Homo sapiens: one gene and its partners. The protein of the gene in region 3 interacts with the protein of the main gene of each other region in a pairwise test. Each region holds a gene or a part of one and is shown on either strand. Other genes may lie near its edges.

What was found.
Region 1: the proteins of TMEM19 (region 3) and MC4R interact in a two-hybrid assay, tested with the Homo sapiens proteins (one large-scale study listed by BioGRID and IntAct).
Region 2: the proteins of TMEM19 (region 3) and LY6E interact in binary tests that used the Homo sapiens proteins (3 or more experiments, as listed by UniProt).
Region 4: the proteins of TMEM19 (region 3) and GORAB interact in binary tests that used the Homo sapiens proteins (3 or more experiments, as listed by UniProt).
Region 5: the proteins of TMEM19 (region 3) and TLCD4 interact in binary tests that used the Homo sapiens proteins (3 or more experiments, as listed by UniProt).
Region 6: the proteins of TMEM19 (region 3) and ELOVL4 interact in binary tests that used the Homo sapiens proteins (3 or more experiments, as listed by UniProt).

The regions. Positions count from the first base shown.
Region 1 is NC_000018.10:60,370,562-60,373,929, reverse strand, and holds MC4R (melanocortin receptor 4), read left to right. Parts: upstream 1-1,154; 5' UTR 1,155-1,580; coding exon 1,581-2,579; 3' UTR 2,580-2,868; downstream 2,869-3,368.
Region 2 is NC_000008.11:143,017,135-143,021,328, reverse strand, and holds the start of LY6E (lymphocyte antigen 6E precursor), read right to left. Parts: upstream 2,801-4,194; 5' UTR 2,743-2,800; intron 447-2,742; 5' UTR 390-446; coding exon 338-389; intron 16-337; coding exon 1-15. UniProt on the Homo sapiens protein: GPI-anchored cell surface protein that regulates T-lymphocytes proliferation, differentiation, and activation.
Region 3 is NC_000012.12:71,689,082-71,692,581, reverse strand, and holds part of TMEM19 (transmembrane protein 19), read right to left. Parts: intron 2,992-3,500; coding exon 2,878-2,991; intron 1-2,877.
Region 4 is NC_000001.11:170,542,166-170,545,665, forward strand, and holds part of GORAB (RAB6-interacting golgin), read left to right. Parts: intron 1-325; coding exon 326-427; intron 428-2,539; coding exon 2,540-2,680; coding exon of another isoform or gene 2,681-2,684; exon of another isoform or gene 2,685-3,500.
Region 5 is NC_000001.11:95,141,355-95,144,854, forward strand, and holds part of TLCD4 (TLC domain-containing protein 4), read left to right. Parts: intron 1-2,536; 5' UTR 2,537-2,547; coding exon 2,548-2,702; intron 2,703-3,500. Other genes in the region: TLCD4-RWDD3 (TMEM56-RWDD3 protein), read left to right, coding at 2,548-2,702.
Region 6 is NC_000006.12:79,923,554-79,927,053, forward strand, and holds part of ELOVL4 (very long chain fatty acid elongase 4), read right to left. Parts: intron 2,829-3,500; coding exon 2,641-2,828; intron 1,480-2,640; coding exon 1,399-1,479; intron 1-1,398. UniProt on the Homo sapiens protein: Catalyzes the first and rate-limiting reaction of the four reactions that constitute the long-chain fatty acids elongation cycle.

The DNA of each region.
Region 1 (3,368 bases), on a different chromosome or scaffold from region 3:
TTAGTCATAAGGTCCTACCCAATTCCAAAGGTGGATGGAAGACGTTAATTTATCTCAATGCTCAGGAACAATACTTAGTATTGTCTCTGTCACAAAAGGAAAGAGGATACATTCCCAACCTAAGTAACTGAGATTCAGAATTAACCCTGAAATAAGCAGCTACAAACTATAGAGCACTAAAACCAAAAATAATCATAGAAGAAAAGAATATACAAAATTTTGTATAATCTGTTGTTCAGTTAATTTGGAAAGTAACTTTGCTGCCATCTTTCAAACCACCTTAAGCAAAATATTCAGAAACTTCAATAACTAACTAGTATCACCAGTCTTGGCTTGATAAGTAAAGTTACTAGGTATTTGTCGGTTCAACTTACGATACGTTAAACTCTGGAGGTTTAAAAAAAAGTTGCTTAAAAAAAAAAAACAGAATGCAGCTTATTATTTTCCTGAGTTCAGTGTAAGCATAGTTACATTAATGCCGTATGAGTTTAAAATATTGTAAATAAAAAGCACCTTTTTTCAGCTATAACACAAACTCCTCAATAGAGAAATATGGGATATTAGTGCATTAAAATCAACCCCTTTTGAACCCATTCATAATTTATAGCTACCTACATAGTTCTTCCAGCCATACCATGTCTATCTGTATCATTAAATATCCTCTCTGTTTTTCAGGTATTTTAACTGAACCACTACTGGCTGGGTTCTTAATAAAAACAAAAAATTAAGAAGGTAAATAAATTCAGTATCCTAGCCAAAAAGCAGAGTATCTGTTTCAGGAACATAAGACAGTATACTTTCCATTTCATTTTACACACACACATGATGTCTTTTACATAAGAATGAACCTGGCTGCCTGAAGATAGCTTGTTTTGATATCACAGAATGGCCTCTAGGGATCAAGTTGTTTCCCTTGAAAACTTAAAAAGGGAAATTCAGTCTCTTATCCGGCTTGCTTCTCGACTTCAGACTTCAGGAGCTTCTGCATCTGAATCTGTGTCACCCTGCAATTTGTGTCTCTGAAACATAATCCTGTCTCACAGACTCCCATTGCATTGGGATTGGTCAGAAGGAAGCAGAGGAGGAGCCACCGTGAACATGTTTTTTTTCTCTCCACACATCATAAAAATCAGCAGCTGGCGCCTACAGCCCCTAACACTCAAAGCAACGCTCAGGCTGGAAACAGAAGCTTCCGAGAGGCAGCCGATGTGAGCATGTGCGCACAGATTCGTCTCCCAATGGCATGGCAGCTTCAAGGAAAATTATTTTGAACAGACTTGAATGCATAAGATTAAAGTTAAAGCAGAAGTGAGAACAAGAAAGCAAAGAGCAGACTCTTTCAACTGAGAATGAATATTTTGAAGCCCAAGATTTTAAAGTGATGATGATTAGAGTCGTACCTAAAAGAGACTAAAAACTCCATGTCAAGCTCTGGACTTGTGACATTTACTCACAGCAGGCATGGCAATTTTAGCCTCACAACTTTCAGACAGATAAAGACTTGGAGGAAATAACTGAGACGACTCCCTGACCCAGGAGGTTAAATCAATTCAGGGGGACACTGGAATTCTCCTGCCAGCATGGTGAACTCCACCCACCGTGGGATGCACACTTCTCTGCACCTCTGGAACCGCAGCAGTTACAGACTGCACAGCAATGCCAGTGAGTCCCTTGGAAAAGGCTACTCTGATGGAGGGTGCTACGAGCAACTTTTTGTCTCTCCTGAGGTGTTTGTGACTCTGGGTGTCATCAGCTTGTTGGAGAATATCTTAGTGATTGTGGCAATAGCCAAGAACAAGAATCTGCATTCACCCATGTACTTTTTCATCTGCAGCTTGGCTGTGGCTGATATGCTGGTGAGCGTTTCAAATGGATCAGAAACCATTGTCATCACCCTATTAAACAGTACAGATACGGATGCACAGAGTTTCACAGTGAATATTGATAATGTCATTGACTCGGTGATCTGTAGCTCCTTGCTTGCATCCATTTGCAGCCTGCTTTCAATTGCAGTGGACAGGTACTTTACTATCTTCTATGCTCTCCAGTACCATAACATTATGACAGTTAAGCGGGTTGGGATCATCATAAGTTGTATCTGGGCAGCTTGCACGGTTTCAGGCATTTTGTTCATCATTTACTCAGATAGTAGTGCTGTCATCATCTGCCTCATCACCATGTTCTTCACCATGCTGGCTCTCATGGCTTCTCTCTATGTCCACATGTTCCTGATGGCCAGGCTTCACATTAAGAGGATTGCTGTCCTCCCCGGCACTGGTGCCATCCGCCAAGGTGCCAATATGAAGGGAGCGATTACCTTGACCATCCTGATTGGCGTCTTTGTTGTCTGCTGGGCCCCATTCTTCCTCCACTTAATATTCTACATCTCTTGTCCTCAGAATCCATATTGTGTGTGCTTCATGTCTCACTTTAACTTGTATCTCATACTGATCATGTGTAATTCAATCATCGATCCTCTGATTTATGCACTCCGGAGTCAAGAACTGAGGAAAACCTTCAAAGAGATCATCTGTTGCTATCCCCTGGGAGGCCTTTGTGACTTGTCTAGCAGATATTAAATGGGGACAGAGCACGCAATATAGGAACATGCATAAGAGACTTTTTCACTCTTACCCTACCTGAATATTGTACTTCTGCAACAGCTTTCTCTTCCGTGTAGGGTACTGGTTGAGAATATCCATTGTGTAAATTTAAGCCTATGATTTTTAATGAGAAAAAATGCCCAGTCTCTGTATTATTTCCAATGTCATGCTACTTTTTTGGCCATAAAATATGAATCTATGTTATAGGTTGTAGGCACTGTGGATTTACAAAAAGAAAAGTCCTTATTAAAAGCTTAACAATGTCTCCTTCGTGTTATTCATAAGCATTGGACACTTTGCGTGCTTTCGTAACATAGAAATCAGAGCCTCATTAAACATATTCTAATAAATGCTTTATTATATTATATTATCCACCATTGAAATGTAGAGAGTTCATTCTAGCAGTTAAGGGAAAATATTTAAAGAATAGATGTATAATCATTTTTAAAAATATCATCACTGAAATTTCAAGTAATTTAATTAAAGGTTTGTTCATCCTCCCTGTGCAGAAGTAGAAATGAAGCTCCTCTAGAGAGAAAAACAGGTGCTGAAAAAAGAGAGATGCTGAGTTAGAAAACTATGTGTACTTCTCAGACACAGAAAGATTCATCTCCCTTAGCAAACAGCCTGATATTTCACACAGGCAATTCGGTTTGGGGTGGGTGGGAAAAGGCAGCTATAGGGATGAAAGTGTCCTGGAAAACCTAAGTTGCCATGTCAAGCTAAATTTCCTGTTACCAAATTATCCCTAAACAATATTAATAA
Region 2 (4,194 bases), on a different chromosome or scaffold from region 3:
ACATCAGCGAGCTGGCTGCGGAAGGAGGACACACCTGTCTCAGGGAAGCCTCCAGTGTCCCTCCCAGGCCTGACCCCAGTGGACATTTACTGAGAAATTACTGTATACCAGGCCCTGGGCTGAAGGCAGAGCAAAGACAGTGACACCCCACCCTGGCCGTCGAGCAGGTCAAGCGACACTCAAACACACAGTGAGACAGTGTGGCCAGGCCGGGTGAGCCCTCTGCTGGGAGCGGCCTGGAAGGACCCCTGGGGCGTCTGCTCAGGGGAGAGGGGTGGAGAGGGAGTGGAGCAGGGCACAGCTGGACAAAGGTCTGGGGTCCCCAAGGGCACCTCACCTCGCTCCACACCCAGAAGGGCAGCCAGCAGCACTGGCAAGAAGATCTTCATTCTGGAGAGGATGGCCGTCCTGCCTGGAGGTCACAAACCAAAGCAGCCTGTCCTGCTCTGGAGAGACACACTGGTTAGGGGGCCGGGTGGTGCCTCACTCCTCCCCAAGACCATGCACCCCCACTTTGCAGATGAGGACACAGACAGCAGAGGGGAAGGGACCTGCCAGCACACAAGGACTTCCCTGCTTCTCTCCTGACCCACTCCTCACTCAGTGCAGACATGCTCTAGGCTATCTCCCTCCTGAAACCTGGCAGGAGGGGGCTGCACAGGCAAGAGGAGGAAACTCAGCAGCCTTCTCAGAACCACAGAAAAGAAGGCAGAGTGAGTGGCCTCTGCCAGTGGTCCTGGGGTGGGGGAATGGGGAATGGGGAATGGTGATCAGTCATAATATTAGCTAGTCTGGGGCTGGGTACAGGGGCTCACGCCTGTAATCTCCATGCTATGTGAGGCCAAGGCAGGAGGATCATATGAGGCCAGGGGTTTGAGACCACCCTGGGCAACACAGTGAGACCTCCTGTTTCTACAAAAAATACAAAAATTAGCCGGGCGTGGTACGTGCCTGTGGTCAGCTACTTGGGAGGCTGAGGTGGGAGGATCTCTTGAGCCAGGGAGTTCAAGACTGAAGTGAACTATGATCATGCCACTGCACTGCAGCCTGGGCAACAGAGTGAGACCCTGTCTCAAAAAAAAGAGAAATCTATATACACATCTATATGTGTATCTGTCAGTGTATATTAGCTAATCTGTATCTAGAATTTTCCTTGGGATGGCTCAGTGTTTTGAGCCCAGGCAGCTCCCCTCACATGGAGACCTGGGGCCAGGTGGGGCATGGCTGAGGGGGAAAGCACTCCCCATTCCTGATGTTACTCAGTTCCGAGGAAAGCACCCCACTCAGTATCTGCTACTCCCCATTCTGTGGCTGGGAAATGGGCTCCGAGAGACAAGGCTGCGTGCCACTGGTCCCACCAGCAGGAAAGGGCCAGATGGGTCGCTGTACTGCTCCTCGGCCTCTGCACAGGACCCTCTGCACTGCTGGAGAAAGAATCTGGAACACACCCAGCTGGGGTCGTGATTCTCTGTTTTGTGAGTGCATGGTGTTGGAGGGGGAGGCTGCTGCCTTCTGTCAGGGACAGCCGTGGGCAGAGGAGTGGGAGGGACATCCCGGGCCTGGGGAGCTAGTGCTGGGCACTGGGGGTAAGGAGGATGCCTCAGAGAACAGATCTGGAGAGGGGCCCGCAGAGGCCCTAAGGGGAGAGCAGCAGGCCAGGACAGTGAGACCTGGGCTGACATCCTGGGGTTGGGAGTGGGAGCCCCAGGTGGCCAAAAACAGTGCCAAGTCCGGCTGGGGCCTATCCCCGCCTCCAGGGAGTAGCCCGAGGAGGAAGGATCTCCAATTCCTTTTCCCCCCACCCCCCTAAAGTGAGGTTCTGGTGTGGGGGGGTCCCTGAGCTGTCTCTGAGGAAGTCCTAGCATACAGGGCCACAAACAGGTCCAGCTGGTGCCGCCACCTGCTCACTGGGTGGCACCCAACCCGCTGGGCCACCAGGCTGAGCTAAGGCACCGGTGGGAGCCGAAGGCAATTAGGAAGGCCGGGTGGGCCATGGAGCCCGGAGGGAGCCAGCCGGCAGGCCGTGGGGGGCGCCCCTGGGGCCCAGGCTGCAGGCTCATGGCTCATCCCCAGGCTCAGGGAAGCTGGCCCCTGGGAGCCAGGTATCTAGGGGCTGCCCAGCCAGCAAGGGGCGGGAGCCTCTCCTGTGTCCCGGAACGGGGAGGGGCCCGGCGGTCCACTCAGGGAGGCTGGGCTCCTTGGACCTCACCGCAAGCACCACCAGTGCCAAAACAAGAAGCGGGGGCGGGTTCCAGTGCTCCGGGGTGATATGCCGGGGGCGGTCAATCCTCCCTTTCCGGCCAGGAGCTCTGCAAGGTCCCGTGCCCCCTCCCCTAGTCCTCAAGGCTGTCCCTCCCGGCCCACGTAGAGGAGCCAGGAGCGTCTGGAGTTGGGTGATGGGCTCCAGTGGCTGCGCAGCCCTGGGGCGGCCGGGAGGCTCCTGGCGGCAGTCTCCGCCCGCTCCCGCCCCAGATCTTTGGAAACATTCGGGGAGGCCTGCGGGGGATGGGAGGAGAAGCTCAGCTCTCTGGGGACCAACCCACCGGCAGCCCCAGCCCCTCTCCTGCGCCTCCCCGTGCGCCCCTCTTGCTCTCTCCCACCCTCTCCCGCCCCGGCCCCCGCAGGGCGCCTTCCGCCGCGCGTGGCTGAGCCGGGGCCGCGTGCACCGCAGCCGAGGCCGCCGGGTCTGAGCGCGTGCGCGCAGGTGGCGGGGGCGTCCCGGCCGGGGGCCCGCGGACTCACCGCCGGGCGGACGCAGGTACCAGCAGCCTGGCCGAGCTCCCCGAACCTCGCGCGCTCTGGACCGCGGCTGGCCCGGAGCCTCCCAGGCAGCCGCGCGGCCCCGGGGCGGGGGCAGGGGCGGGACGCGGGAGGGGCCTCCGGCGGGCGGAGTCGGCGAGCCCGCGGTGGGGGTCCCCGCGCCGCCCAGGCCTACCCCGGCTCCTTGGGATAGATGGGGAAGCTGAGGCCCAGAAGGGGGCTGAGACCACCTCCCAGTTTCCCCAGTGAGGTGGCGCCTGAGCCACGGCCAGGCCCGGCCTCCTTCCACCCGGCCCTGCTGTGCGCGCGGCGGGTGCTGACCTGGCGAGGCCGGACAGGGGACCAGGTCGGGGTGACCGTCACTGACACCTGGACAGTCCTCGTTGTGTTCGGGGTGGGAAGCCCACGGGTGAGCAGACGTGTTTGGGTGTGAGCACGGAGGAGGGGTGCCTCGGAGAGTGTCGGGGAGCAGTGTTGGGGGTCTCGCCTGCGGAGTGGAGCTCGGGAGGGGAGGACGCAGGCACCCCCGCAGCCTGGGATTCCTGAGGTCATCTTGTCCCTGCTTCCCGCTCCAGGCTGGGCTGTTCCTTGGCCATCCCTCAGGCGGGGGTGGGGAGACCGGCAAGGGTTGGGAGGTGGGAGGTTGTGGGTGCTGGCTTCTGCGAGGGCACTGAGGCTCTGCCATCGGTGGGTGCCTCTCCTCCCGCCAGGCCCTCTCCGAGGGGCTGTGGGCGCTGGGGCTCTGCCACCGGCCTGTTCTCCAGTTGACAGTGCGTTTCCTTTCTGGGTGACAGGGCGAGCACCAGGGAGGGGTCTTCTGAACCCCACACGGGAGTAGGGGGAGGGTGTGCGGAAATGTGAGGGTGGGCAGGTGGCCATGTGGTCAGGAGGGGGCTGGGGCTGACAGACACCTGTAACACCCCTGTCTCAAATCTAGGGGTGCAGTCAATGTGGCTGTGTGTGTGTTTTGCATGAGTGAGTGTGTGTGGTGCGTGTGTGTGTGTGTATGGAGGCTGAGGCTGGGGCTGTGTGTGTCACGAGATGTCCTGGCCGTGGTATGATGGCATCGTGGGTGGGGCTTCCACAGCTTTGGGGGCGATGGCCCAGCTGTCTCTGGGGACAGGAGCCTCCAGTAGGCTGTGGCCCGGGGGAGTCCCTGCCTCTGGGTCTTACGTGGGGCACAGGCAGGGCATCTTCCCCTCTGGAATGTTGGCGGTGAGGGCAGGGGGTTCTGTCTCTGCAGCCGGCACCTGGGGCCATCCCTGCCATGGCAGGGGCTCAGTAAGAACTGTGGGACGAAAGCACGGGTGGGTTTGCCCCCTTCAAGACAGGACCCTCTGATTCAGAAAACAAGCTGCATTAGGAGGAGGGCTGTTTGGAAAAAACTCTCAAACCATTTATCCTGTCTCTCACTCAACACAGAAGACATCAACA
Region 3 (3,500 bases):
CCATCTACTACTACATTTGATCATTTCCAACTCTAAGGGCTGGCAGCAAATAAATGACTTCATGAGATTTGAATCCTATTCAATAAGAATACTTCATTAAGCACTAAGAAGCCTAGAACCAGAAACTTTTTAAGTGAGAATACTTCATTTAATTTTATTCTGCAAGTGTTAGTTTCAGTTTTCTGCAGTTTTCATTGTTTTCTGCCCAGAACTGTCTCTTCATCCTTCAAACCTCTCTATATACTTCTCTATTAATGCAGATGATAATAATAATAATCAGCATATATAATGAGGTAGGAGAGAGGTTGAGGGGGAGAAGTAATGTGAGCAGAGGTACGGAGAAAGAAAGAAATGTTTGTGGCAATGCCAATTTAATAGTCATTCACGTATAAAAATATGGTTGAAACTACATAATCACTAACAATGAACATTTTTGTATAGTTTACAAAGATGTGTTGCCTCATATAATATCTTGTTTGAGATTTACCAATAAGTCCATAAGATATTACTATTGGAGGTATTTCATAAGAGATTAAGAAAGTGAGTCTCCTAGGAGTTAGGCAGCATGCCCAAGTTTGCACTGGTAACAGGTGGCAGTGTTAGGTTTCATATCTTTTAATTCTAATCAACATAGGAGAGGAGCAGATGTCCAAGGGCTACAAGGCAGCCCTTCTAGCAGCAGGAAAGAAACAACAGTAGAGATCGTAAAAGTCAGAGAAGCAGGACAATATACAGCACAGAAGCCCAAGGAAGACAGAATTTCAAGAAGGACTTGACCTTTTTTTCTATAAGAATAATAAATTCCAAGGCAATGATATCTAAGAGCTTTTTTTTTTTTTCTTTTTGACACAGGGTATCACTCTGTTGCCCAAGCTGACTGAAGTGGCACGATCAGCCTCCTGTGTAGTTGGGACTACAGGTGTGCACTACCACGCCAGGCTAATTTTTTTTTTTTTTTTTTTTTTTTTTTTTTTTTGTAGAGGTGAAGTCTCATTATGCTGTCCAGGCTGGTCTCAAACTCCTGGACTCGAGTGATCCTTCTGCCTTGGCTTCCCAAAGTGCTGGGATTACAGGTGTGAGCCACTGCGACCAGCCCAGAAAGAACTTTTTTTAGCAAAGCATAAGTCCATGTTATTATATTTAAGCAGAGATTGTTCAAATTATGTTATAAATGATTTAATACTACCAAAGTGCTAACAGCAGTGCCTGGTACATAGAAAGTGTGACATAAGCATTTGTTAAATAGATAAAATATAACCACTCCTAATACTTATTGATTATATGGTAAAATAAAATTCATATAAAAATATCAGTATGTCTAGTTAACTTTAATTCTCAATTACCCCACAAAAGGAAAAGAAATCTCACAATATAACTTAAACAGTATTTCTTAATTATGAAGAGAATTGGCATGATTTTGAAGAACTCTGCCTAATAATAATAGTTACAAGCACTGAATAAATGTTGGCTATGTGTCCAGGCAATGAGGTAAGGACTTTAAATTATCGCATTTAATTCTCTCTATGCCCTAAAAATGAAATAAGGGGGAGATCCAGGCCTTGTGGAGCCCAAAGTTTATATAATTTGGGGTTCCCTCTTTAAGAAAAAGAGTACAACAGTTTTGACCTTTGCAAAATTGACAAAACCATAGGACCACGAGAGCACATTGCTAGAGTTTATTCAATTTTATCTCTCACTTCTTTTCCTATCGTTACTATTTTCTAGTCAAATGAGCCCTATTATTCTTACTCTCAAATAAGCCTCTAAAATATCTGGACTTTTGCACTTGTTATTCTGTCAGCCTGGAACATGATTCTGTCAGATCTCATTGCTAGCTTCTTCAGATACCAGTGCAAAATGACCTCCGTAGAGAAAAGCACCTGACACCATTTACAGAAGAATGCACTACATCTTCCAACATACACACTTTACAATTATCTTTTCATTTTTCTCATAAACTTCATCATTACCTGAACAGTTTTATATATTTTATTTATTATCTATCTGCCCTAAAGAATATAAGTTCCATGAGAACTGACACCACGTTCTTTTTGTTTACAGATCTATCCCAAGTTTTTAGAACAGTAGTACATACCAGTAAGTGTTCAATAAAAATTTGCTAAAAGAGGGGTCAGGCATGGTGGCTCATACCTGTAATCCCAGCACTTTGGGAGGCCCAGGCAGGTGATCACTTGAGACCAGGAGCTCGAGACCGGCCTGGTCAACATGGCGAAACCCTGTCTCTAATAAAAATACCAGAAAAAATTAGCTGGGCATGGTGGCACACACCTGTAGTCTCTACTCAGAGGCTGAGGCACAAGAATCGCTTGAATCCAGGAGGAGGAGGTTGCAGTGAGCCGATCATGCCACTGCACTCCAGCCTGGGCAACAGAGCAAGACTGTCTCGGGAAAAAAAAAATTGCTAAAAGAATGAATGCATATCCTGTTCTCAACTCAGTTTTGGAAAATTAATCCAGAACACTAAGTTTGGACTGCTCTGTTTTGAGATTACTAACAGCAATTTCCAAAAGTTATTCTCTCCAAATGCTCTATTTTACATATAGGAGGAGTGCTCCAGTGTTTCTGCTGGTAGAAGACTAATCAAACTAAAGGAGCAGAATAGTCAAGGTTCATCTATCCTATTAATCTACTTTGTATCAATCACAGAGTTTAATTTGTATGTTACACTAAAAGTGTACGTTAGTTTCTGAAATTTTGACAATAGGAATGCTGAGCAAGATGTAACTTTATCATTGTCTAAAATATATAACTGTGATTTGTAGTCAGTCTCATATATTCAGAATTTAGAAAACATAAATTTAAATTATATAAGCAAGCACTTAGTAGTTACTGTAAACATTCAAAATAAAAACATACCTCCTAGAGCCCCACTGTGATCTAGACTTTTCTTTTTAAGGCCATTAGAGACGATCAGAACAGGAACAACAACAGAAAACAGCCAACGCCACGGAGAAATAGGTCGTAAGTTACCTGAAAAATTATAAAGGTGGAGCACAAATTGTGTGAAGTTTGCACAGGTTAGTTTTGGCAGTAAACTTCCGTTACTGCTTTTAGACTAAAATACTGTCATAAGTACAAACACCAAGATGAAGTCACCAAAGAAATATATAGTCATGCATCACTTAAAGATAGGGATATGTTCTGAGAAATGCATCCTTAGGTGATTTCATGGTTATGCAAACGTCAGACTGTACTTACACACACCTAGATGGTAGAGCCTACTACACACTTAAGCTATATGCTATAGCCTATTGGTCCTAGGCTACAAACCTGTAAAGCATGTTACTGTACTGAATACTACAGGCAATTATAACGTATTTGTGTATCTAAACATAGAAAAAGTAGAGTAAAAATATGGTATTATAATCTTATGGGAACATGTTGTATGTGTGGTCTGTCATTGACGAAAACATTGTTAGGCAGAGCATGACTGTATTTATGTTGAGACATGCATGCATATTTTCGGAGAAACAGTCTTA
Region 4 (3,500 bases), on a different chromosome or scaffold from region 3:
AACTTACACAAATTTCTTTGTACTCCTAAACACATGCCACAGTATTCTGGCTTCCAGTTTGTGGATTCCTAGATTATATATATAATGGATTTCAGAGGTCCAATTTATGTAAGCCTCTTTACTTTAGATCGTAGTCTTTGTTCCCATTAGAGCAAAATAATGAACTGCAGATGGGTTTCTTTTAAGAGGACTTTTGAAAGAACATATACATAAATCTTCTTGATTAAATTTTATACTTAGAGGACTGAGACTGGTAAGGTGTTGGATAGGGTAGCAGTTTCTTTTTCTTTCATAAACTCATTTTTATGCTTTTTTTGCCCCCTAGGCAAGAAAAATCTCGTTGGGAAGTCCTCCAACAAGAACAACGGCTAATGGAAGAGAAAAATAAACGTAAAAAAGCTCTTTTGGCTAAAGCTATTGCAGAAAGGTGAGGCACCTGAACCAGGAGAGGCTGTTTGTAACCTGTAACCAGTTGTGTCATGTGTTATATTTGTTTTCCCATGTCTCTTTTAATAAACTGATATTTTTTCTTCAACCATTACTTTTAAGACTAACTAAACAAATTATGCTTTATAAGTGATACTGAAATACTAGTTATAATTTATTAAAGAGAACTTTTTAAGCATAGAGCATATTAAATTTGTAAATATAGTTGCAGTTTTAAAGACCTTCATTAGTGCTCCCAGTTTTAACCATCTACACATTCATAAGGGAAGCAGTAAATAGCTATCAGTATATGTAAATTAGCAACAAATGCAAGTTTTAATTTTTATGTGGGGAGGCCTTAATCATTTGATGTGTAGAGGAATAAGGTTTTCTACATAAGTGACATACTCCCATGAATCTTAATTGGATTTCCTATGGGCATTTTTCTTAAATAATTTGCCCCGCCTCCACAAGTAGAAGATACATGATATAGTTTAACTTTTTATTGATGACTCAGGGTCATTATTATGAGCACTGTGTGAGATTCAATTTTTCTTTCACCTTCCAGTGTCTATCAGCAGCCCCTTCACATTTACTGCATTGTACCAGCCGCACACAACAACATTCCCATTGGAATCATTCTTCCCATCCCCCACCACTCTTGCTGAGTTTGTAGTTTCTGTCTAATCTCCTGTGGCCTTAGGAAACTAAACTTAGTCAATATATCCATGGTTGTGAATAGTGAAAACTAAATGCAAGGAAGTACATTTTCTTTTTAGACTTCCAGAAAAGTCTGTCAAACTGTTACTGCTTGAAGCTAGAGTATGTGTAGGGGCAGGAGAAGAGGGAAGAAGGTGATGGGTATAAGAGTAGTTCAGAATTTTGTCTGCCAGAGGAGTGAGTGTAGTTGAGAAATGGTGATTTTTCTTTTTCTACTACTGGTACACCTTGATCTTTCTTGAAGCATAGGAAATAATGCAACTCACTGAGTTACTATGTTTCAAAGGAAAAAACCAGCAGATAAAAGAGTAGTGCCCTCTTTTTTTTTTTTTTTGGTAAGTGATTATTTAAAAATAATTAAAGCATTTTAGTAGTCTTCAATTTCTAAGAGATGGGAAGGCTGTTTTCTGTGGTTTTACAAAAAGATGTACAGGCTCAGCAGTTCTTCTCATAAGTGCTTTTGATTTTAGACAGCACCAGTATAAACAGAAGTGTAAGGAAATACAACGTTTGAACTATTAATAAATGGACAATGAAGTACTTGACGTAAAAGAATCATACTGTTAAGTGAAGTTTTGTAGGCAGAAAGGAAGGGTAAATGCCTAAGAGTAGAAATCAAGAGAATGTGCTATGTAACATGGTGGATTTATGTGGGGATTTTTCTTCTTCCTTCACAATGTGTGTGAAAATTTGAAATGAGTGAAATCATGATTAAAGGGTTGCTTTTTTATTTGTTTGTTCCCTTTCTTAAGTATATATTGTACTTGGGAGAGGGGATTGAGAAATTATGAGGTTGGATGTGCTTTTAAATAAGGAAAATGAGTGTTTTGATGTTCAGCTCCATAAAGAATTTTCGTAACTAGTAGTTTTCCTAGAGAACAAGAATCAAAGCAATAAAAGTTTGGGGAAATGGGTCCCAAGAAAGTTAAAACTAAGTGGATGTTCTCAGATATATAAAGAGGTGTGGTTTAGTATAGACATCTATCTGTTCTTAATGTCAGGTAAGTATCAGACAAATGAAAATGGGCTTAGCAAGAGGAAGAATTAAAGACTAGAAATTTGGAAAGCTCTGTTGAATGTTTCAATGTAAAGGGAACACAGATATATTCTTTTAGTGTTTGTTCTCTTTACAGAATGAATATCAATCTAAAATGAACTATTTGCTGAGTTTTTTTAGACTTATTTGTTACTTTATGAAACATGCAAATATAAAATTTCAAAAACTCAAATGTTAACCAGCTTTTACTTTATTTCAATTTTTCTGATTTTTTTCTAACTTTTAAAATATAAATTATAAATGTATATGCAGTATCTTGCTTTTTCACTTACATTGTATATGGACACATGGTTTTAAAATGTTCTTATTTTCCCACTCACATACCTGATTTTCTAGATCCAAAAGAACTCAGGCAGAGACCATGAAACTAAAGCGGATCCAGAAGGAGTTGCAGGCTTTAGATGACATGGTGTCAGCTGACATTGGAATTCTCAGGAACCGGATTGATCAGGCCAGCTTAGACTATTCATACGCTCGGTGAGTTGGGGAAATTGAATCTGAACAAGGAGTATGATTTAATTAATGTTTATTGCCAGCTGTTCCAGGGGCTTTTATGTATATCATCATTGAAGCCTCAAAACAACCCCATTCAGTGCTGTATTTATTCTTCTTTTGTGCTAATTCAAGTGTCTCCTCTTCAGTGAAGTCTTCCTTAACTCTGCCCTACTAGTTAACCTTGTTCGTGTGCCATTAGAGCAGTTCTTGCATTATTTATTTACGTTTTAGTCTTTGCTGCGAAACCCTCAGCTATTTAATGTTTGGAAGTGTTTTTGCTCATCTTTCAGCATCTAGCAAAGTAAATATCTGAGTGGTTTCGCCAAAACTGTTACTCTGACACCAAGTCTGTGTTCTTTCCATTAAAATTTTTGATATCTGATATAGTCCTATAGGATTGAAGTCTAGTCCTCACTTTAGCTTTCATCAGAGTAAGAGGATCTAGTTTAGTTTTTAAAAGCTTATGAATATTTTAAGCATATCCTCTGTCTTGGAAATTTGAAATATTTTCTCTTTTTTTTTCCTTTCAATTATACTCTGTATGAAATGGTTTAATATATGTTTCCTTGGTTTCAACCATTGGCATTTTTTAAAAGAGAAAAAATACCATGGAGTATTTTTAAAATGAACTAACACATGTAATGAATTACATGGACTTTGCAGACAGATAAAAGGGCAAAAAAATATGTCCAATTTCAGGGTTTTCAGCCCTTTCAACATTGCTTTAATCATCCTGGTTTGTCTTTTTTCACAAGGGAATGCTGTGTTAATGACTCAGTTTTCTATCTTACTCTGTTACACT
Region 5 (3,500 bases), on a different chromosome or scaffold from region 3:
TAAATGCTTTGTATACATTGAATTTTAACAAACTAAATGAGCAGCCCGTGCCCACCTTCTGCTCTAGGATCAGCAGAGAGCATACGAAAGTCTTCAGGGGAAACCTCCTCACATTTAAGATTAGATTCTCCATTCTCTTCTGATTACTGATTATATTTTTTTTCCAATTTTGTGTCCATCTGGCCTCCAGATACCTATTTGCTTTAATCTTAGAAAAGCATTATTCTCCTTACATCCCACTTAGCAAATTATGGTAATGCTTAATTTATGTACAAAACTTTTATGTATTGTTTGGTTAATATTAAACCTAGGCTAAAAGACCACAAATTAAAATTTTAATACCCAATAAACATATGTTGAATTAAAAAGAAGTAAAAGAGCAGTAAAGTTAATGGAGTCTCATAGAGAAGAATTGTAATATCAATATTTTTACCAAGTACACACACACACACACACACACACACACACACACACACACAAAGAATGAGGAAAGAATTCATTATAGACATATGAATTCTGATGGAAGGGGCCCTGTGGGAGATTGATTCTTATTACGATATCCTGGTTGGAAGGGAATGAAGTGGGGTTATTGCTAGTGCAGTCAATGACTTGGCTTTTCTCTGGTGAATTGATTTCAGTAGGTGACTTTATTTCTTTGCATTAGGCAGCTGGAAATGTGTATTGATTTATTTCTTTTTCATTTGAGAATCAGCTTTATCAAAGATGGAGCCATAGAAATGCTGTATTTGCTGGATATGAGCAAATGCCTTAGTGCCTTTTTTTTTTTTTTTTTGCTCTGAATGTTCCTAAGATTTTTAGGAGCCAAATAAAGTTCAGCTCAATGAAATAGAAAACACACTTTGAGTGTGCATATATGCATAGTACTATTCTTTCTGCTAACTCGATTGTTAAGACCTGAAGCTCTTTTATAAAAATCTTTTTTTTTTTTTTTTTTTTTAATAAGGGATACAAAGCCCTGCAGGCCTTTTGCTCCAAGAATGTGTGTGATTGAAGAGCATGTTTTAAAAGTTAAATTCTCATTTGTGCAGTGACGGTGTTAGCGGTGGAGGGTGTTCAGGTTCTTGGCATTTTGAACAAAGAATTAGACAAAATGCACAAAGCAAGGAAGGAATGAAGCAATGAAAGTAGCGATTTATTAAAAATGAAAGTACACTCCACAGGGTGGGAGTTGGTCCTACCATAGGGGCTCAAGAGCCCGGTTACAGAATTTTCTAGGGCTTAAATACCTGCTACAGGTTTCCCATTGGCCACTTGTTGTACACCCCATGCAAATGAAGTAGTGGCCCACAATCTAGGCCGGTTGTGGTGCCTCACGCCTGTAATCCCAGCACTTTAGGAGGCTGAGGTGGGCAGATCACGAGGTCAGGAGTTCAAGACCAGTCTGGCCAACATGGTGAAACCCCGTCTCTACTAAAAATACAAAAATTAACCGAGTGTGGTGGTGCGTGCCTGTAATCCCAGCCGCTCGCGATGATGAGGCAGCAGAATTGCTTGAATCCGGGAGGCGGAGGTTGCAGTGAGCTGAGATCTATCGCACCACTGCACTCTAGCCTGGGGGACACAGCAAGACTCCATCTGGAGGCGGGGTTGGGGGCGTGGCGGAGGGGAGGGGAAGTTACACTTCTGTGCAAAGGAAGACTTGGCTGGCAGTCAGTCAGATTGGTTGGGGAAAGCAACCAATCAGAGGCTGAAATGAAGTTATAAAGTTATACTCCTATGTAAACGTCTGATTGGTTGCGGAAAGCAACCAATCAGAGGTACTTTCAGTTTTCCATTTGCCACTCAGAAAAGTGAGGGAGGGGTTTTCAAAGCGAGTAACCTCCAGTTATTTTGTTAGTTAGGTGTGTAAAGTTGGGCTTTTCTGTTTGATTTAGTTCTAGGAAGTCAGTATGAATCGGCCTTAGGTTCCCTGCCTCCAGACCCTATTGTCTTGCCTCAACAGTGCAATGGCTCTTTGCTAAGACTGTGTTCTTCTTAAGATTTTAATTTTGTTTTAAATGTTGTTTGTCCTGCTCCAAAATTAGTTTTTTAATTATGGAATTATTTTTTGTTTTGTTATTACAGGCAGTGTTAGTTCTATGGTTTTTGGCTTGATTGTTTCTTAGAAATTATGTAACCAACTCTTTCATATCATAGATGAGAAATTGAGGGATAAAGAAATCGATTTGTCATAAATTTAATTGAAATATTATTAGAAGAATAGTTTTTACTTATAGTACTTGAAATTCTCTGTTAATATTAAGACTTAGATAATTTTGAATATCATGATGTTAAAATTATAAATGACACCTCTAATATTGAGATCTTTAAGATAAAACAGACATAAGATACATGACAAATAGATGGTAAAGGTGAAGAAATATACAAAAGGTCAAAAATTCTTATAGTTTATATTCTTAACATTTGTTCTAAATTTTAAAAATTACTAAAATTACAAGACATATTTCTTAAAATAAAAAAATTACTCTAGGTTTATTATGAGACAACAATTTATAGCTGTCATTTATCTTAACAGGTTGAAGAAATATGGAGATCAACACAAAACTGCTCATCAGTGTTACCTGTATCAGCTTTTTCACCTTTCAGCTTCTTTTCTACTTTGTAAGTTACTGGTTTTCAGCAAAAGTTTCTCCAGGTTTCAATAGTCTCAGCTTCAAAAAGAAGATTGAATGGAACTCAAGGTAAAGCATATGAAAATGTAATTGATGACAAGAAACTAGTTTATGAGATAAAATTATTTAAAATATTTCAAAAAAGTATTTCATTTAGGATCTAATGTAAGGCCAAATTTTTATTTGATCTTAGAAATAAAAGGAAAAACAAGTAGATGATCTCATGCAAAAAAAAGTTTAAGAATTCATATATTGAAAGATGTTAGGAGAAATTTACTTAAGTTTCTGAGGAAGTGTGTGAAGATGAAGTAGACTCCAGCTGACTGTGGATGAATACTAGTACTTTCGTGTTCTTCTTTGAAATATTTATAACAAACATATTCTTTGGAAACAAAGATGGAAGAAAAAATTAGTTGTACTTTTGAGTAGCTTATACCATACAGCATTGGCCAACTTAGCCAGACCTGGGGCAGTTAGACTCTACACATCAGGGAACAAAGTGTACAGTCAGTGCATATGAATCTTTTAATGAACTTTGCATTATAATTTAGAGCCCTCCAGCATTTATTATTTTGTTATATAATTTTAAAGTAAAAATTTCTTTTTAGTTTTTTTTTTTTAAACAGAAAAGTAAATGGAGAAAGAATTAGACATCTATTGATATAGAAATCTGCTGGAGTTTTATTTTTTATTTTTATTTTATTTGTTTATTTATTTTTTTGAGACAGAGTCCCGTTCTGTCGCCCAGGCTGGAGTGCAGTGGTGAAATCTTGGCTCGCTGCAACCTCTGCCTCCCAGGTTCCAGTGATTCTCCTGCCTCAGCTTCCTGAGTAGCTGGGATTACAGGCATGCGCCACCATGCCAAGC
Region 6 (3,500 bases), on a different chromosome or scaffold from region 3:
GGCAATAGTTATCAGAAGAAAATTTTTCATAGCCAATACATCTGAGTAGTCTCTCATTTTCTCTCAGTCACCTTCTAGGTTTTATTTCCTCCTTAGTCATTTGTTTACATGGCTGCTGTCTGCCTTCTCACCCTCACTAAAATGCCAGCCCCACAAAGGCAGGGCTTTTCACCCCTGTCCCCAGTACCAACATATAGTAGATGCTCAATACATATTTAATGAATAAATAAAACCAACATGACAACCAAGACAGGTGATTTTTCATCAGTCCATAAGTCTTCTAATAGGGAAATGAAGATACGTACATAAAATTGTTAAGTACATTAAACCAATTTTGTCTCCAGTCTTGATGAATACTGATATTTATATATTGTCCACTCCCCATGCCAGGAAACTATTTTTCTCAAGGGAAGCCACTAGATATTATTACTACATATACTATAGGTAACATAAAACATGTTATGTTTTATATGTAATTTCTAGTATGAACCACAGTATATAAGAAGAGTTCAATAAATACGTAATAGAATAAGGTAATCTGTTGTTTCTTTTGCTTAATGTTAATTTTACTCATGTAAGTGAATGGAAAATAAAATATAACATCTTGTTACTAGTGTTTTATTTTTCTGCAAATATAAAAAAACTGAGTTTATGCCAATACAAATTGTTCTATGCCTAATTTCCTAAATATTCCACACTTCACAAAACATTTACTTTTCCTCACTTTCTTAACACATAACTTGGACTCTAAGAGTTTCTACTCTTGAGCAAAAACAAACAAACAAAAATCTAAAATAATGTCTTTAAAATAAACATGAGACTTCTTTGCTTTAACAAGTACTGCATTCTAGTAATTCAATGCATATTCACTCATGCTGCAAAATAAAAAACATTTTTGAGATACAAAAACAAATTTTAAATTAAGTACTTTTTAAAAAAGCATAGTTTTACTGACTCATAACAATCTAGTATAATTTCACTATCATATTAAAGTACATTTTGCCAGGTGTGGTGGCTCACACCTGTAATCTCAGCACTTTGGGAGGCTGAGGCAAGAGGATCCCTTGCGGCTGGGAGTTCAAGACCAGACTGGGCAACATAGCAAGACCCTGTCTCTACAAAAAGTAAAAAAATATCTAGGCATGGTGGGGTACACCCGTAGTCCCAGCTACTTGGGAGGCTGAGGCAGAAGGATCAATTGAGCCCAGGAGTTTGAGGCTGCAGTGAGCTATGATCATACCACTGCACTTCAGTCTGGGGGACAGAGCAAGAAACTGTCTCTAAATGAATGTTAAAGAAACTGTCTCTTAAAAAAAAGTACATTCTATATTTTCACAGACTGGGGCCTATAAAAATCAAACCACTTTTACTGATTAAGAGTATTTTTAATGTACTTACCCTGACTTCATGAACATTATTAGAATAATCCACACTCTGGCAAATATAGCTATATCCCGCATTATATGATCCCATGAATAACTGGAAAAAGAGTAATAATATTTGTAGTAAAGTTTTAGTAAACACAGCATTAAAAACACAATTATATACAAAATGTAGCCTTTCAAATTATTTTAAACACAATATTTTCTTTAAAAATTTCAAATGCATTAAAAATTTCATGCATTCCGATTGCTAGAAGTTACTGTGCATTAATTTGTTCTATAATTAAAATCTAAATTAAAAATCACATGTAAATTTTATACTGAACATTGACTCTATCTATTAAATACTTCACAGTATTAAGAGAAATTTTTATTGCTAGGACTCAGATTTCAAAGTTGTCCTACCTTAACTGGTTTCTATGTTTGATCCAGAGTGGTTTGCATCTAACAAATTAGGTACAGGTATCCAAATAAATTAAAGTGTTCATGAAGTTGAGACTCGAGGCTAAGTTTTCAAGTAAAGAAATATTTCTTTTTCTAAGAAGAGTTATTGTTTATTTTCCTAGCATTACTAGTCAGTTCTCTGGCTTCATACAGAATTTTAATGAGTCTCTTAGGAAACAAATTCTTTATACATATGCAATTTAAAAAATGGCTGTGTCAATCTAGCCTTTAGGATTTCCTTTGAAAATGTTGTGGAGAATTTGCTAGTGCCCAGAAAAGTATATAATGATTAGTAACAACAGCTATATGGCAGTTAATTCATTTTAATTCCAGCCCAAAATACAACATTATGTAATAGGATTTACTTGAAATTGGCATATTTTGATCAGTTACCAAACCAGAAACTACTGAATAAGAATTATAAATAAATAGCTGCTACTGTTTACTGAGTGCTTAATACGTGCCAAACACTATGCAAAAATTATCTTACTTTACTCCGATAATAACCTGAGATGGTAGGTATTTAAGTGGGGAAAACGAGGCTAAGAAAAGTTAAATAACTTTCAATGCCAGAACAGCTAATAAGGGTTACTTTAGAATCCAGTTGGTCTTATTCAAAATTCCACTTTAAACAACTTTCCTATACCTCATGTTTAATATTTTTGTTATTCAAAAGTGAAAAATGTCAAAAATGTACTTTTAGAGTAGCTAACAGTTATGTCTGGGTAAAATATTACAATGATGGTTTTACACATTCTCATTTTTAAATTTCCAATAACCTTGGAAAATTATTAAAGTGATCTTAAAAACATACCTCTCTGAAGATAAAGAGGTTAAGCAAAACCATCCCAAAATTATAGATAATGAGCACTAGACGCATCTGAAAAGGTTCTCGGTCCTTCATCCATTTTGGACCCAGCCACACAAACAGGAGATAAAGAGTGCTTATACTTAGTGTAGGCCAAGGAGACTGCATCAGAGGCCAATTTTCCACACGCTTATCTATAGAGAGAACAAAATACCATAAAATTCATTAATCAGTAAATGTTTTATAAAATACACTTTTTAGGAATCAAGATGTTTCAACTTAATTTCCTAATTTGACTAAATACGGATCACTGTCCTTTGAGTCCCAACAAAAAATACATGGTATAAAAACCAAAGAAACAATACTGACTCCTGCAAGTGGCTTTTGAAAATTATGCTTCATTACTTATGTCACACATTATGTTTTACAGAGACCCTACAGAACAAAAACAAGAAATAAAGCGCACTAAAAACAGAGGTGGTTATCTTGGGATGAAAAGTTAATGAAAAACTTCATACACAGAAAATAAATATGTTAAGGAAACATTTGTCTTCCATATTATACACGTGAAATTTATCAGGGCAGCTTGGAGGCTGCTCTGTGTGTCCACTCCTAAAGCAGGCAAGAATGTAACTGGAGAGGTACGTACGGGGCGATGGTAGCCATTTGCTGAAATATCTCGAGACACTGAAGACAAGAGTACAGGGGCACTGAGAGATTAAGTTAGGGTTAATTACAATTCTATAATGTAAACAGTCACCATATTCAAGACATTTTTCTAACTTTTTCATTGAGAACATGCACCTATTTTATTCCCATGAATAACTAACTTGAATGTTTTTCTCTAGAGCTGTAAATCGCATAAC